2 linked regions of the Homo sapiens genome follow. The protein of the gene in region 2 binds, or shares a complex with, the protein of the main gene of each other region. Each region holds a gene or a part of one and is shown on either strand. Other genes may lie near its edges.

Region 1 (7,026 bases), on a different chromosome or scaffold from region 2:
TAGCACAGCACCAGTCCCAGACAGGACAGGGGACATTTGCTGTCTGTGTTTTTTTTTTTTTTTGAGATGGAGTCTCGCTCTGTCGCCCAGGCTGGAATGCAGTGGCATGATCTCAGTTCACTGCAAGCTCCGCTTCCTGGGTTCATGCCATTCTCCTGCCTCAGTCTCCCGAGTAGCTGGGACTACAGGTGCCTGCCACCACACCTGGCTAATTTTTTGTATTTTTAGTAGAGACGGGATTTCACCATGTTAGCCAGGATGGTCTCCATCTCCTGACCTCATGATCCACTTGCCTCAGCCTCCCAAAGTGCTGGGATTGCAGGAGTGAGCCACCACACCCGGCCGACATTTGTTGTCTTTAATCATGAGGACTGGGAGGGAATGGGAAAGGGCTGGGGACCCCAAGCCTAGGATCCTGTGCTGACTCCAACCCTGGAGTGACTGACTCCATGCCCAGCCTCCTGCTGTCCCCTCCCCTCTCTGGGCTGTCTGCTCCAAATCAGTCCTGGCCCCACTTCACCTTCCCAGCCAGAGACGGGGGCCTCCTCTGTCCTCCTAGTCTTATGGGTTCAAGTGTGCCCCCTTCAAAAAGACAGGTTGAGGTCCTAAGCCCCAGTACCTCAGAAGGTGACCTAATTTGGAAAGATCTTTACACAGGTAATCGAGTTAAATTGCGGGCCCTAATCCACTATGGCTGGTGTCTGTGAAAAGGAGAAACGTGGACACGGACACACACACAGAGGGAAGACACAAGGACACAGAGAGACACAGGGAGAGGCCATGTGAGGACGGGTGATGCAGCCTCAGCAGGCACCAGGAAAGGCAGAAGGGCCCTTCCCCTGTAAGATTTCAGAGACAGCCTGGCCCTACCACCTGGATTTTGGACTTCCAGCCTCCAGAACCCTGAGACATCAATTTCCATTCTTCTGGCCAGTTTCTCATACTTTGCTACGGCAGCCTGGGAAACTAACACACACAGACTCTCGTTTCTCCTCCGCCTGATCTGCAGTCGCGTCGCAGCATCCGTCCCACATGGGTTGTGGCCCGGGGATGGCCTCTCCTCAAGGGCAGCTGTGGTTGCCACCATTATTCCGGTCACGTGGTCGTGAGAGGCTGACCTTTGCTGCAGGGGACGTGTGTGGAGACCGAGCACCCCTCTGAGGGTCTTGAGGGCCCTGTCCCCCTGAAGTGTGGTCTCTGATCCTACCTCTCCCACAGGCGGGGATGGGGTCTGAGTCCTCTCTTACCCCCAGGCTTGCCCACCACAGCGGGGCACATGTGAGGCCTCAGGAAATGTAGGCTAAGTGAATGAACGTCTACAGGCCCAACCGTGTCCATCAAGACTGGAACCAACCCAGGCCCTCGGCCCGGCATCGGCCCAGCATCCGAGGCCTCCGAGTCCTGCACCCCGTCCATCTCTCCTGCTCCATGCCCGCACCTATAGGTCCTCTCAACTGACAAAGCCCAGACATCCAGGTCTCTGCATGTGCTGGAACACACCCATTCCGGCCCGGATGGAATCCAGCTAAACTACGACACCCATCCTGGTGTGCCCTCCTATAGGAAGCCTTCCCTACATGCCACCTAATTTTACGGCCTGCCCTTAGTCACATCATAGATCACCCGATACTGCAGCTGTCAAGCTTCTCTCCGCACCCTGTGCAGCCCTCCAAGAGAGACACCAAGGCGTCTGACCCTAGGTCACACAAGGCCTAGGAACCATCTGCTGAGTACTCAGTGCACTGGTGGCCTGGCAGGGCCATGCAGCGGGGCTCTCCGCTTCCTGCCTGAGTTCTCGCACTGATTTCCTTCCAGTCCCACTCGGCCCGGCCAGTGAGCACACTGAGCCCCTGAGCCTTCTTCCTGCTCTCAGGGCACTCGGGCGCTGCTCCCAACCCACCACACACTTCCCAGCCCTCCTCTTCCTAGCCATCAAAACAGCTTTTGTTTTTGAGACGGAGTCTCGCTCTGTCTCCCAGGCTGGAGGGCAGAGGCACATCTCCGCTCACTGCAAGCTCCGCCTCCCGGATTCACGCCATTCTCCTGCCTCAGCCTCCCTCGTAGCTGGGACCACAGGTGCCCGCCACCACGCCCGGCTAATTTTTTTAATTTTTAAGTAGAGACGGGGTTTCACGGTGTTATCCGGGATGGTCTCGAACTCCTGACCTTATGATCCACCCGCCTCGGCCTCCCAAAGTGCTGGGATTACAGGCGTGAGCCACTGTGCCCGGCATCAAGACAGCTTTGCACGCAGAAACTTCAACTGTGTGCAAAGAGTTGGGGTGAACCAACTCTGGACCCAGCTGTTCTGCTACAGGTGAAATTAAGCCAATATTTTCCTGGGCCTTTCTGGGACTCGAGCCAAAACCACCCTGGCTGGGGATGGGGGGATGGGGGAATGGGGAGCTAGTGCTTCATGCATATGGGGTGTCCTCTTTGGGGTGATAAATTTTTTTTTTTGAGATGGAGTTTCGCTCTTGTTGCCCAGGCTGGAGTGCAATGGCACGATCTCAGCTCACCACTACCTTCGACTTCTGGGTTCAAGTGATTCTCCTGCCTCAGCCTCCCGAGTAGCTGGGATTACAGGCATGCGGCACCACGCCCAGCTAATTTTGTATTTTTAGTAGAGACAGGGTTTCTCCATGTTGGTCGGGCTGGTCTCGAACTCCCGACCTCAGGTGATCCGCCTCCTCACCCTCCCAAAGTGCTGGAATTACAGGCATGACCCTGTAAAACAGTTGGAAGTGACTGGGTGCAATGGCTTATGCCTGTAATCCCAGCACTTTGGGAGGCCGAGGTGGGCGGATCACTTGAGGTCAGGAGTTCAAGACCAACCTGGCCAAAGTGAAACCCTATCTCTACTAAAAATACAAAAACCAGCCAGACATGGTGGTGGGTACGTGTAATCCCAGCTACTCGGGAGGCTGAGGCAGGAGAATCACTTGAACCTCGGGGGCAGAGGTTGTAGTGAGCTGAGATCATGCCACTGCACTCCAGCCTGGGAGAGAGAGAGAGACTCCATCTCAAACAAAACAAAACAAAACAAAACCCTTATGAGGAAAAGTGTGATAAACTAACCAGTTTGAGATGCTAAAACTTGCGTTTCTCTTATTGAACACTAAGTACAAGTCATGTGCTACAAGCTCAAAGGGCGACATGTAATAAACATTTTGTCAAAGAAATGTGGAAAACTTGAACAGAAGAAGCACTATGGCTGGCTGCAAAATATGGCTAAAATATCAAGTTTATGATAAATTCCAAATAAACCCCTTGATATGGCAGACACAAAATAAAAATAAAAGCCCCCTAGGTGACACAAGTGGGCTCTGACTTGGTGTTCCCAAGTCCTCTAACTTACTCCCATTTGTTCTACCCAGTATCATTCCCCGGGGTCTCTGCTGCCCGCTTTCATCGGCTAACAGGTGCCTGGAGCCCCAGGAGGTCAAAATGAGTGAATGTTAACAGCATCCGGCCATGACCAAGGGCTCCCTACACACGGCCTGTCACCCAGGCAAACTAGTTCCATGAGGGCCAGGACCTTGCCTATCTCATGCCCACTAACTCCTTGGTGCCCAGGACGATTTGTTCCACAAACATTTGTTGAATTAATGAGTGAACATATGAATGAACAACTGAGTTGTCATAATGTTATGGGAAACACACTGGGTCTATTTTCCTTCCACCTCTTTTTTTTTTTTTTTTTTCCCGAGACAGGGTCTCGCTCTTTCACCCAGGCTGGAGTGCGGTGGCACAATCTCGGCTCACTGCAACCTCTGCCTCCCAGTCTCAGTTGATCCTCCTACCTCAGCCTCCTGAGTAGCTGGGACTACAGGTGTGCACCACCATGCCTGGTTAATTTTTTCTATTTATTTGTTGTTTTTGTATTACATACTAATTCATTTATTCAGCCAGTCTCCTGAAGCCCCGTGGGTGCCAAGCCCCAGCTGGAAGCAAATGGCAGAAGCACCCAGGGACCTGGACATTCACAGTCCAGAGGTGTGGGGCTGTGACAGGTCATGGAGGCAGAGGAGGAAGCATCTGGCTGCAAGAATCGGGAAGGTTTCCCAGGGTATAAGACACCTGAGCTGGGTCTGGAAGGCTATGCAGTGTCTTCCAGGGTGGTTAGTATTAAATGCATTCTGGACATTCATTCTACAGAATTTACCCGAGGCCTCCTGTGTACCAGGCCCTGTGCTGGCTGCCAGGCACTTGAGGAGCATCAGACTTGGACCTGGGCCTCAAGAAGTCTCCATTTAACATCACTCAAGACTGTCTTACCGGTCTCTCCCAGTGGTCTCAAATGGAATACATTTTGCGCCCCCTTCCCAGAGGATATTTTATAATGCCTGGAGACATTTTTGGTTGTCACACCTTTGGGAGGGGGCTACCGGCATCTAGTGAGTAGAGGCCAAGGATGATGTTAAACATCCTACAATACCCAGGACGGCCCCCACTACAAGGAATGACTGTGTCCACAGTGTCACTAGGGCCAAGGATGAGAAACCCTGCTCTGTGTTACCTACGAATTCCAGCTACCGCGAAGGGGAAGCTTCTGTGTCACCTTTTCACTATATGTCCTGCACCCAGCACTTGCACGCACATACTGGAACAAAGCAGATACTCAACAAACACCTGCTGCAGAAGCATACAGAGGTAACGGCCGCTACGAACAGGTGTTGTTTAATGAACCTTGACTGCAGACCAGGCCCTAAGCGACACACAGCAAGCAACTTAGCTCCTGTGATCTTCTAACAACACGGAGATACACGCGACCATTATCCATTTGCAAACCAGGAGAGTGAGGCACAAAATCCTAGGAAACACTTACACGGCACTTAATACATGCCAGGCACTGTATTAAACATCATCAACTAACTTAATTCTCCAAACATCGCTGTGAGGTTGCGGTACCCAGCCCCCAATACAGCACCCAGCAATCCAGCCTCTTGCTATTTACACACTGGGTAGTCTCCTCCTACACTGAACGGGATAGGCTTATACTGCACACCAAATGCAGTATGGCAGAAGTGGACTTGGCACCGCAGCTCAGGCCTGTGATCTCAGCACTCCAGCACTTAGGGAGGTCAAGGCAGGAGGATCGCTTGAGGCCAGGAGTTCAAGACCAGTCTGAGCAACACAGCAAGACCTCATCTCTACAAGAATTAAAATAAAGAAATCAGCCATGCATGGTGGTGCCCACCTGCAGTCCTAGGTACTCAGGAGGCTGAGGTGGGAGGATCACTTGAGCCCGAGAGGTCGAGGCTGCAGCAAGCTATGATCCCACCACTGCACTCCAATCTGGGCAACAGAGCAAGACCCTGTCTCAGGTTAAAAAACAGAATGTAGGCCAGGCGCGGTGGCTCACGCCTGTAATCCCAGCACTTTGGGAGGCCGAGGCGGGTGGATCACAAGGTCAGGAGACCGAGACCATCCCGGCTAACACAGTGAAACCCTGTCTCTACTAAAAATACAAAAAATTAGCTGGGTGTGGTGGCGGGCACCTGTAGTCCCAGCTACTCAGGAGGCTGAGGCAGGAGAATGGCGTGAACTCGGGAGGCGGAGCTTGCAGTGAGCTGAGATCGCACCACTGCACTTCAGCCTGGACAACAGAGCGAGACTCTGTCTCAAAAAAAAAAAAAAAAAAAAAAAAAGAATGTAACAGAAATAATGACATGACGTGTAACTTCCAAGACTTGATTACAAAGAGCCTAGTGGGGCCTCTGGGTGCAGCATCTCATGCCTCTAATCCCAGCACTTAGGGACACTGAAGTGGAGGATCACTTGAGACCAGGAGTTCAAAACCAGCCTGGGCAACATTGCAGGACCTTGTCTCCACAAAAAAAACAATTTTTTTTTGAGACAGGGTCTCAGTCAGTCAGTCACCCAAGCTGGAGCGCAGTGGTGCGATCTCTCCACCTCCTGGCTTGAAGTGATTCTCCTGCCTCAGCCTCCTGAGTAGCTAGGATTACAAGGCACATGCCACCACACCTGATTAATTTTTGTATGGTTTTTTTTTTTTTTTTTTTTTTGAGACAGAGTCTTGCTCTGTTGCCCAGGCTGGAGTGCAGTGGTGCAATCTTGGCTCACTGCAAACTCCGCCTCCTGGGTTCACGCCATTCTCCTGCCTCAGCCTCCCGAGTAGCTGGGACTGCAGGTGCCTGCCACCGCGCCCGGTTAAATTTTTGTATTTTTAGTAGAGACGGGGTTTCACCGTGTTAGCCAGGATGGTCTCCATCTCCTGACCTCATCATCCACCCGCCTCAGCCTCCCAAAGTGCTGGGATTACAGGCGTGAGCCACCACGCCTGCCCAATTTTTGTATTTTTTGTAGAGACGGGGTTTCACCATGTTGGCCAGGCTGGTCTCGAACTCCTGACCTCAGGTGATTCGCCCGCCTTGGCCTCCCAAAGTGCTGGGATTACAGGGATGAGCCACCGTGCCCCGCCACTACAAAATTTTTTTTTTTTTTTTTTTTTGAGACAGAATTTCACTCTTGTTGCCCAGGCTGGAGTGCAATGGTGTGATCTCGGCTCACTGCAACCTCCACCTCCCAGGTTCAAGCAATTCTCCTGCCTCAGCCTCCCAAGAGCTGGGATTACAGGCATGCGCCACCATGCCCAGCTAAGGCCTGTAATTTCAGCACTCCAGCACTTAGGGAGGTCAAGGCAGGATGATTGCTTGTATTTTTAGTAGAGGCAGGGTTTCACCATGTTGGACAGGCTGGTCTCGAACTCCTGACCTCAGGTGATCCACCTGCCCCAGCCTCCCAAAGTGCTGGGATTACAGGCGTGAGCCACCACGCCCGACCTACAAAAATATTTTTAAGAAATCAGCCAGGTGTGCTGGCATTTGGCTACCGTCCCTGCTACTCCAGCTACTCGGGAAGCTGAGATGGGAGGATCGCTTGAGCTTGAGCCCAGGAGGTCGAGGCTGCAGTGAGCCGTGACTGAGCCACTGCACTCCAGCCTGCGTGACAGAGTGAGACCCTTCCTCAAAAACAAGAGAGGCCTGGGGCTTCCTCTTTGCT
Region 2 (7,495 bases):
CACTAAATTTTGGATATGATAATAGGGACACATCCTAGTCCTTCAGGTCCTAAGATGAATAAACCTCAAGGAATCTACCTATGTATAATACAAGTAGGTATAGTGAAGATGGTTGGCATTGCCAAGTTGCTAGCCATATTTTTGGCTATAACAATTTCTCTAACTGAACTCTAAACCCCAACCTCTTTTGAGTCTTTCAAGTTCTAGAAACTTATTCCTGGCTGGATGCAGTGGCTCACACCTGTAATCCCAGCACTTTGGGAGGCTGAGGCAGGAGGATCACTTATGTCAGTTTAAGACCCACCAGGGCAACATAGTGAGACCCTGTCTCTACAAAAAATGAAAAATAAAAAATTATCCAGGAGTTATGGTGCATGCCTGTAGTCCTAGCTACTCGGGAGGCTGAGGTGGGAGAATATGGGGAGGATTGCTTGAGCCCAGGAGTTTGGGGCTGTAGTGAGCTATGATGGCACCACTGCATTCCAGCATGAGCAGCAGAGTAAGACCATCATCTCAAAAAAGAAAGAAAAAAAGAAAGAAAGAAACTTAACAGTTCACCTGATCAATAGACACAAGCCAAAACCACACCTTCCATGCAAGTTAGACTTTGGAATAGACTGCCTGTGTCACTTAAATCTGAACCTACACTTTCTAAGTTAACTGGACCTTGAAAGTTTGCCTATTCTTTTCTTCTTTAACTTTAGAACAATCTGTACCTTCTCTTCTTTTCTTCTTCAACTTCAGAACAACCTGTACCTTCTTGGTTCTGAAACTTTACTCTGAACATTAAAATGTTCAGAGTAATTTGTAAGTAAGTTAATGGCTTAGAACGCTTGCATTCTGAGAGGCAGCTACCATTACATCACCCATCAATGTAAACCGTAAACATTCCTCATGTTACAGAAGGTCTCAGTGTCCACAGAATTCTGGCAACAAATGGGTTGTTGTTGTCTCAGAAAAGCCCTAGGGGCCTGCCAACATCAACTTCTTTGTCTCAGGAACCTGCCCTTCCTGGTTCCAGTGCTAGATCTTGGGTGATAGGTGGACAAGCTAGACTGGGAGAGCCCAGAGAAACTAATCGCACTGAGGAGGGTGGTAGAGGTGAGGCGGATGCTAGGCTCAGGTCCAACAGCAAAAGGAAGAAGGAGTCCACAAAGGAAGGGAGACCTCACATAATAACATAATGCCAGAGATAGATGGGCAGGTGACTAACTTCAGGGAGGGCCAGTCATGAGGAAAAAGCAGAAAAACCTACAAGGAGATTGACAAGCACACAAAGCAATCAGAAAGCTAACCAGGTAGGCAGTTGGTATAGGAAGGACAGAAGCTAATCCTCAGCAAGTGGAGATCCAACACTGAAGCTGAATTGAGAACTGGCTGTCTTGGTGAGACTGATGTCAGCAGTGCCAAACCAGGTCTGAGAGGCAATGGTACACACCAGGAGACAAAGCAGACACCCAGCATGGAATAGAGAGCCCAGCTCTAGTCCTCCAAACAATGACTATGGCAAAGTAGAATCAATGGTCACAGTTTGATACCGCTGTTTGCCAGTACCTATGTGTGTGAAAAGATATTTTCTGACTAAATAAGTAAAAATCTCATTACTGATCAGCACAATGAACATCTATAATCAATTTGGAGATGAGAAACCTGATGTGATGACTCCTGTGGTGTAGCAATTGTTTTCTACTGAACGATCAGCATTCCTAAGGTTGTCTCTGGTTCATGGAAGACTGTTTCTCTTACTTTGTCTCAAGTACAGAAATATTCCCTAGTAGTGTTAGATTTCTAGGAGCCCTTTCTTGTTCATTTTGAAACTCAGAAATCTTTGGATTTCCAAACATTTTCCAGGTTTTCATAGGCTCTTCTCATTTTTAGTGTACTCATGAGGGCCTCATTTATGACTCAAATTCTAGAGATGTCTCCAGAAGAGACATTATAAAACAACCATGCTGCCTGGGCTCTCCGAGGTAGAGCTCAGTGTCACAGTGCTCCCACGGTGCCCATCCATGAAGCAGAAGGTACAGGCCACGTACTGTTTACATCTCTGAAACCTGGCATGAACCAAGTTATTTCCCCAAACCTTTAAACTCCTCTCTGCCGTGTCAACTCCGTGGTGGCAGGAACTAGGTCAGTTTGAGCTTACAGTCTTGTTCTAGTGTCTAGCACAGTGGCCAACACCTAGAAGACATTCAATGAACACTTGCTGAATAAATTTTGTAACGGTTTCAGAAATAACATTAGAAGTATAAGCTACCACATACATAAATGTCCAGTGAACCCAACTGTTATAAATTATAATAACTTTACTAGGTATAACTTTGTAGGTGTTCCAAATCTTTCTCTACATCCAGCATTCCAGAAATAGCTATTACCTCAGAGGAAGTCTTGTCCATAAAATAAAGGCACTTCAGATGTTTTTATTCTACCCAAAGTAATGAATAATGACTGAGCACCACCAAGTACCAGACTTTATGCCAGGTGTTAGGAAATGCAGGCATGTTTAATTTCTGTATCTACTCTAAAGAGCTTTAGTCTAGTTGAAGAAGTAGACATTTTAAACCATAATATAGTGTAATCTGTGCAATACTAGTAGTGCTAATAAAGTGCCAGGAGGAAAGAGGAAGAAATACAAATTTTTCTACAGAAAGGGATTTAGAAAGATATCTACGTGAGTTTGCTCAGACTGCTGTGAATAGCATACTATAAACTGGGGTGATTCGAGTCTCAGCAAACTGAACGCTGAGAACTCAGGCTTCTTGTTCCTTTTGGCTGCAAGAAGGTTGGCAGCCAGTCAGAACTTTACCCACTTGTAAGAGATCAGGCTTCTTGTTCCTTTTGGCTGCAAGAAGGTTGGCAGCCAGTCAGAACTTTACCCACTTGTAAGAGATTAGATGTATCTTCCTTGGTGATTCAGACCAGCCTAAGGGGAAAGACCTGATGATACCAACTTTGGGGATTCTCCAAGAAACAATGTCCCCAGAACACACTATAAAGATGCTCAAAGTTGATAAGCCCTGCCCAGCTGCTCAGAGTTTCCAGTTGGCTCTTTAGTCCCCCACTCTAAATCCTGATAGGACAAGGATGGAACAAGAAGCCTGAATTCTCAGCTTTCAGTTTGCTCAGACTCAAATTACCCCCCAGTTTATAGTATGCTGTTCACAGCAATCTAAGCAAACTCCCCTAGGTATCTTTCTAAATTCCTTTCTGTAGAAAAATTTGTATTTCCTCCTTTTCTCCCTGGCACTTTATTAGCATCACTAGTATTGCACATATCACACTCTATTATGGTTTAAAATGTCTATGTCTTCAACTAAGCTAAAGCTCTTTAGAGTAGATACATGGGCCCTAACCTGACTGATGTCCTTCTAGGAAGAGAAAATTACGACACAGACATGTACAAAGGGAAGACCATGTGAAGACACAAGGAGAAGAAGGTCATCTACAAGCCAAGGACAGAGGCCTCTATAGAAACTAACCCTATCAACCTCAACCTCAGACTTCCAGCCTCCAGAATTACAAGAAAAGAAATTTCTGTTGTTTAAGCCACCCAGTCTGTGGTATTTTGTTATGGCAACCCTAGCAAACAATACCCTAAGCCTAACTTTTCAAGTTTTTCTCCAGCAGGAAATCTGAATTATTTCTTTTCAGCTTTTAGTAGCTATTGTGTGGACAACATGGTTGCATGTGCATATTAAAGTTGTTAGAAAACTAAATTTATGCCAGGTCAGACACTTGTATAACAAAACCATGAATGGGGAGTCATCAGCTCATCACTTAGCAGCTACAAAGGAGTAGTTCATGCTTAGCAGTTTGTGGCATTTCACAACCGTCAAAGAAGTGAAAGGCCTTTGGATGTCTATGACTCTCATCAACAATTTTCTTTATGAGGCAAAGAAAGCTGATCATTCAAGACATAACAGATGTTTTAGGGGTTGGTGATGATGGTGGCATATGAAGAAAAACACATACTCTCAACAATATAATAGCAAATAGAATCTAGCAATATATTAAAAAGGATAATATATTATGACCAAGTAGCATTTATACCATAGAAGCAAAATTGGTTTGGCATTCAAAAGTCAATCAATTACATTTGCACTGAGGTTATCATAGCTGAGAAGACACCGTCTCTGTGGCTTCAGCTCCTGGCTGCAGGCCGCTGATGGAGGTCCAGAAGGTCAGCTGCTCACAGACATCAACTTGGTGTCGGCTGCGGCTCCAGCATTTTCCGCAGGCTGCAGCTTCTGGGTTCCAAACTTTTCATTTCTCAGTCTGCAAGCGGGTTAGCCCCGAACAGGAAGCAACTCCTTCTCCAGCCGGGAGGTGGCGGCCTGCGGTCGACGATGCCTCCGGGGTCCTTGGGCTCAAGGTTCCGTTTGGGGGCGCTCTCGTCCGGCTTGCGGGCCGCCCTTCTCCACAGACGGAACCTTCTGGTGGCGCCGCTGGTTTCTGCGGGGTTTGCAAACGGCGCGTACCGGGCCCTTCCCGTCTTCCGTACAGGTTCCTGCTGTTGGCTGGGCTCGGGAGGGAACGCTCCAGGTAAAGCGCTGGGGGAGGAAGCGACGCCGAGGAGCTACGGTTTCCTCCAGAGGTCTCCGCCCCTCTGCCCCTATATTCCCAGAGCTCGAGTCTGATCCGGGCCTTGCCGGGCACCCTGGAAAGGCGGGGGTGATAGTACAGATGGAGACGCAACTGCAGAGCATTTTCGAAGAGGTGGTGGTGAGTGCAGCTGCCGGCCATCCAGGACTACGGCTTGGGGACGGGGAGACGCGGGGGCAGCCGACCAAGGAAACTGGCCTGGGCAACCTCCTCTCACGCCTCCCTTTTTATTCCCTTGTTTTGACACCGAGGTTGTATGCGGGGAAGTTTAGTGATTCTCAAACTGCTGTCAAGTTCATTGTATCCTTTGAAATCGATACAGTGACAGGCCAGACAGGTATTGATAGTTTCAGAGCTGATTAAGGTGACTTGCCCTGTGTTACATTGTAATACTTGGCTAAGGGAGGCGCCTTTTTAAAATTAACATTGTTTACATTTTGTTTTTTTTTTTTTTACAGAAAACGGAAGTTATAGAAGAGGCTTTTCCTGGGTGAGTGTATGCGTGGCAGAGTTTTGTGTTTTTATGTGATTGTGTCTGTCAGATTTTACTTAGTTTCGTGTTGGAAGGTTATAAGATCCACTATTCTGATTGTGTGTAATTACCTTTTTAAAACGAATGACAAATAATGTAATTTTTATTTTTTTAGCATGTTTATGGATACTCCTGAAGATGAGAAAACAAAACTAATTAGCTGTTTGGGGGCCTTCAGACAGTTTTGGGGTGGTCTTTCTCAGGTGAGCGCTTCATTTTTAATACATTCAGCTGATGATTTTTGGCCTCTTCTTTTTTTTTTTTTTTTTCTTTTAACATTTACTTTCATGCTGCTCTTAAGATCTTCCTGAGAAGGGAGAAATAAAATTGTTATCATTTTTTATTCTGGCTTCCATTTGTTTTAATTTGTATATTTCAGTGGAAAACCTGTGTTGAGAAGTCAAGTTGATACTGCACAGTGTGAGATGTTTAAAAAAAAAAACCTCCCCTATGTTAGATTAATTGAGATCATTTTCATCCTATTCGGATTTATTTGGTACACTTGAAAACAGATATGTTAAGCTTTACTTGTCAAGGATACAAATTCCATTTTTCTGCTAAATAAAGGAATTGGCACAGCATTGATACAAAGATGCTACAATAGGAATACCAAGATTCTATAATAAGGATAGGAAAATATTATAGTAAAAATGAGGAGACAAACTGTAAAAGTAACAAAGAACAGCTACCAGAAAATGTATCCGTGAAAAAGACAAAAATGTGTCATCCTCGAAGAGCTCACATTGCAGTAGTGCCTTACCTTCTCATGGTACACTATAGGTAGGGAAATGAGAACTGTTTGCGTGTCAGCCACTGGTGATAAGATTTGCCACTCAGACATGGATCATATAATGCCAATACAGTCATGTTTTAACCTTTTTGTTTAGTTGTTTTCTAATAGGTAATACATTTATATGGTTCAAAATGCACAGGTATAAAAGGGTGGATCCAATAACTAGTCTCTTTCTCTTCTCTTACCTGTTATTTTTTCTGTCTGTAGCCAATATCCTCAGGTTATGTTTTCTTCTAGAAGTATTTTATGCATATAGAAACACTTTTATAGCATGATCATATACCATGTACACTGTTCATTAATTAGCACTTTTTTTCTCCTAATAATAATCTACAGGTAATTCCCTATCAGTCCAAGCGTTACTTGTTCCTTCCTTTCTTACTTTTTTTTTTAAATAGCAGCATAATATTCCATTGTATGGCTGTACCTTCCTCCTTTTAACCAATCTTCTACTGTCTTCTAAGTTTCTTCTTACTTTTTCTAATTTAACCAATGCTGTGATGAATAATATTATGCATGAAAAATAGGATAAATTCCTAGAAATAGTATTGCTGAGTCAAAAGCCTTATCAGTTTGTAATTTTTATAGAAATTATTAAATTTTCCATAAGGGTTATACTAGTTTATGCTTCCACCAGCAGTGTTTGAGATTATCTTTTTCTTTTCTTTTTTTTTTTTTTTTTTGGAGACAGAGTCTCACTCTGTCGCCCAGGCTAGAGTGCAGTGGCGTGATCTTGGCTCACTGCAACCTCTGCCTCTCGGGTTCACGCCGTTCTCCTGCCTCAGCCTCCCGAGTAGCTGGGACTACAGGCACCTGCTATCACGCCCGGCTCATTTTTTGTATTTTTAGTAGAGACGGGGTTTCATCGTGTTAGCCAGGTTGGTCTCGATCTCCCGACCTCATGATCTGCCCACCTCGGCCTCCCAAAGTGCTGGGATTACAGGCATGAGCCACCGCGCCCGGCTGAGAGTATCTTTTTCTTATAACCTCACAATAGAGTGTTAAGCTTTTTGATCTTTGCCAATCAAAAACATGAGAAATTTTATCTCAGTATAATTTTATTTTGCATTTCTCTCAGTGATGTTGAATATCTTTCCAAAATTTAAAAAAAAATTCATTAAACACTTTATGAATTATGATGTGGCCCTCTAATGGAGAGACCAGGAAGAAAATAGGTATTTCCAAATCATTGTTATATGTGCCACAATAGAAGTATGTATGAGAACAGTGGTTGTGGAGAGAAGCAGAACATTATAGGCTCTTTTTGGAGATAATCCTAGAAGACAAACTTTGATACGGGCACAACATTTTGACATCGTATTTAAAGTTTTGCCAGTCTAGAAATGTGACATGTCATTGGATTCATAATGGGCTCTTGTTTGGGATCTTAGGGATTGGATTCACACCTAATTCTCCTAAGCCTGATACATACTGATCCATAATGAATTTTACCCCCAGTGACAGTAATATTTATATATGCCATAAAGGGCACTGTTTACAATGCCTTACAACAATCTGTGTTAAGAGTTTTCTATTGACCGTTAATATGTTAACTAATTAATTACTAC

What was found. The genes of interacting proteins can lie anywhere in the genome.
Region 1: MED23 (region 2) and MED25 share a complex: the UniProt entries of both Homo sapiens proteins name them as parts of the mediator complex.

What each region holds. Positions count from the first base shown.
Region 1 is NC_000019.10:49,821,266-49,828,291, reverse strand, and holds part of MED25 (mediator of RNA polymerase II transcription subunit 25), read right to left. Parts: intron 1-7,026. UniProt on the Homo sapiens protein: Component of the Mediator complex, a coactivator involved in the regulated transcription of nearly all RNA polymerase II-dependent genes.
Region 2 is NC_000006.12:131,625,238-131,632,732, reverse strand, and holds the start of MED23 (mediator of RNA polymerase II transcription subunit 23), read left to right. Parts: upstream 1-4,490; 5' UTR 4,491-4,683; coding exon 4,684-4,722; intron 4,723-5,060; coding exon 5,061-5,092; intron 5,093-5,249; coding exon 5,250-5,337; intron 5,338-7,495. UniProt on the Homo sapiens protein: Required for transcriptional activation subsequent to the assembly of the pre-initiation complex. Component of the Mediator complex, a coactivator involved in the regulated transcription of nearly all RNA polymerase II-dependent genes.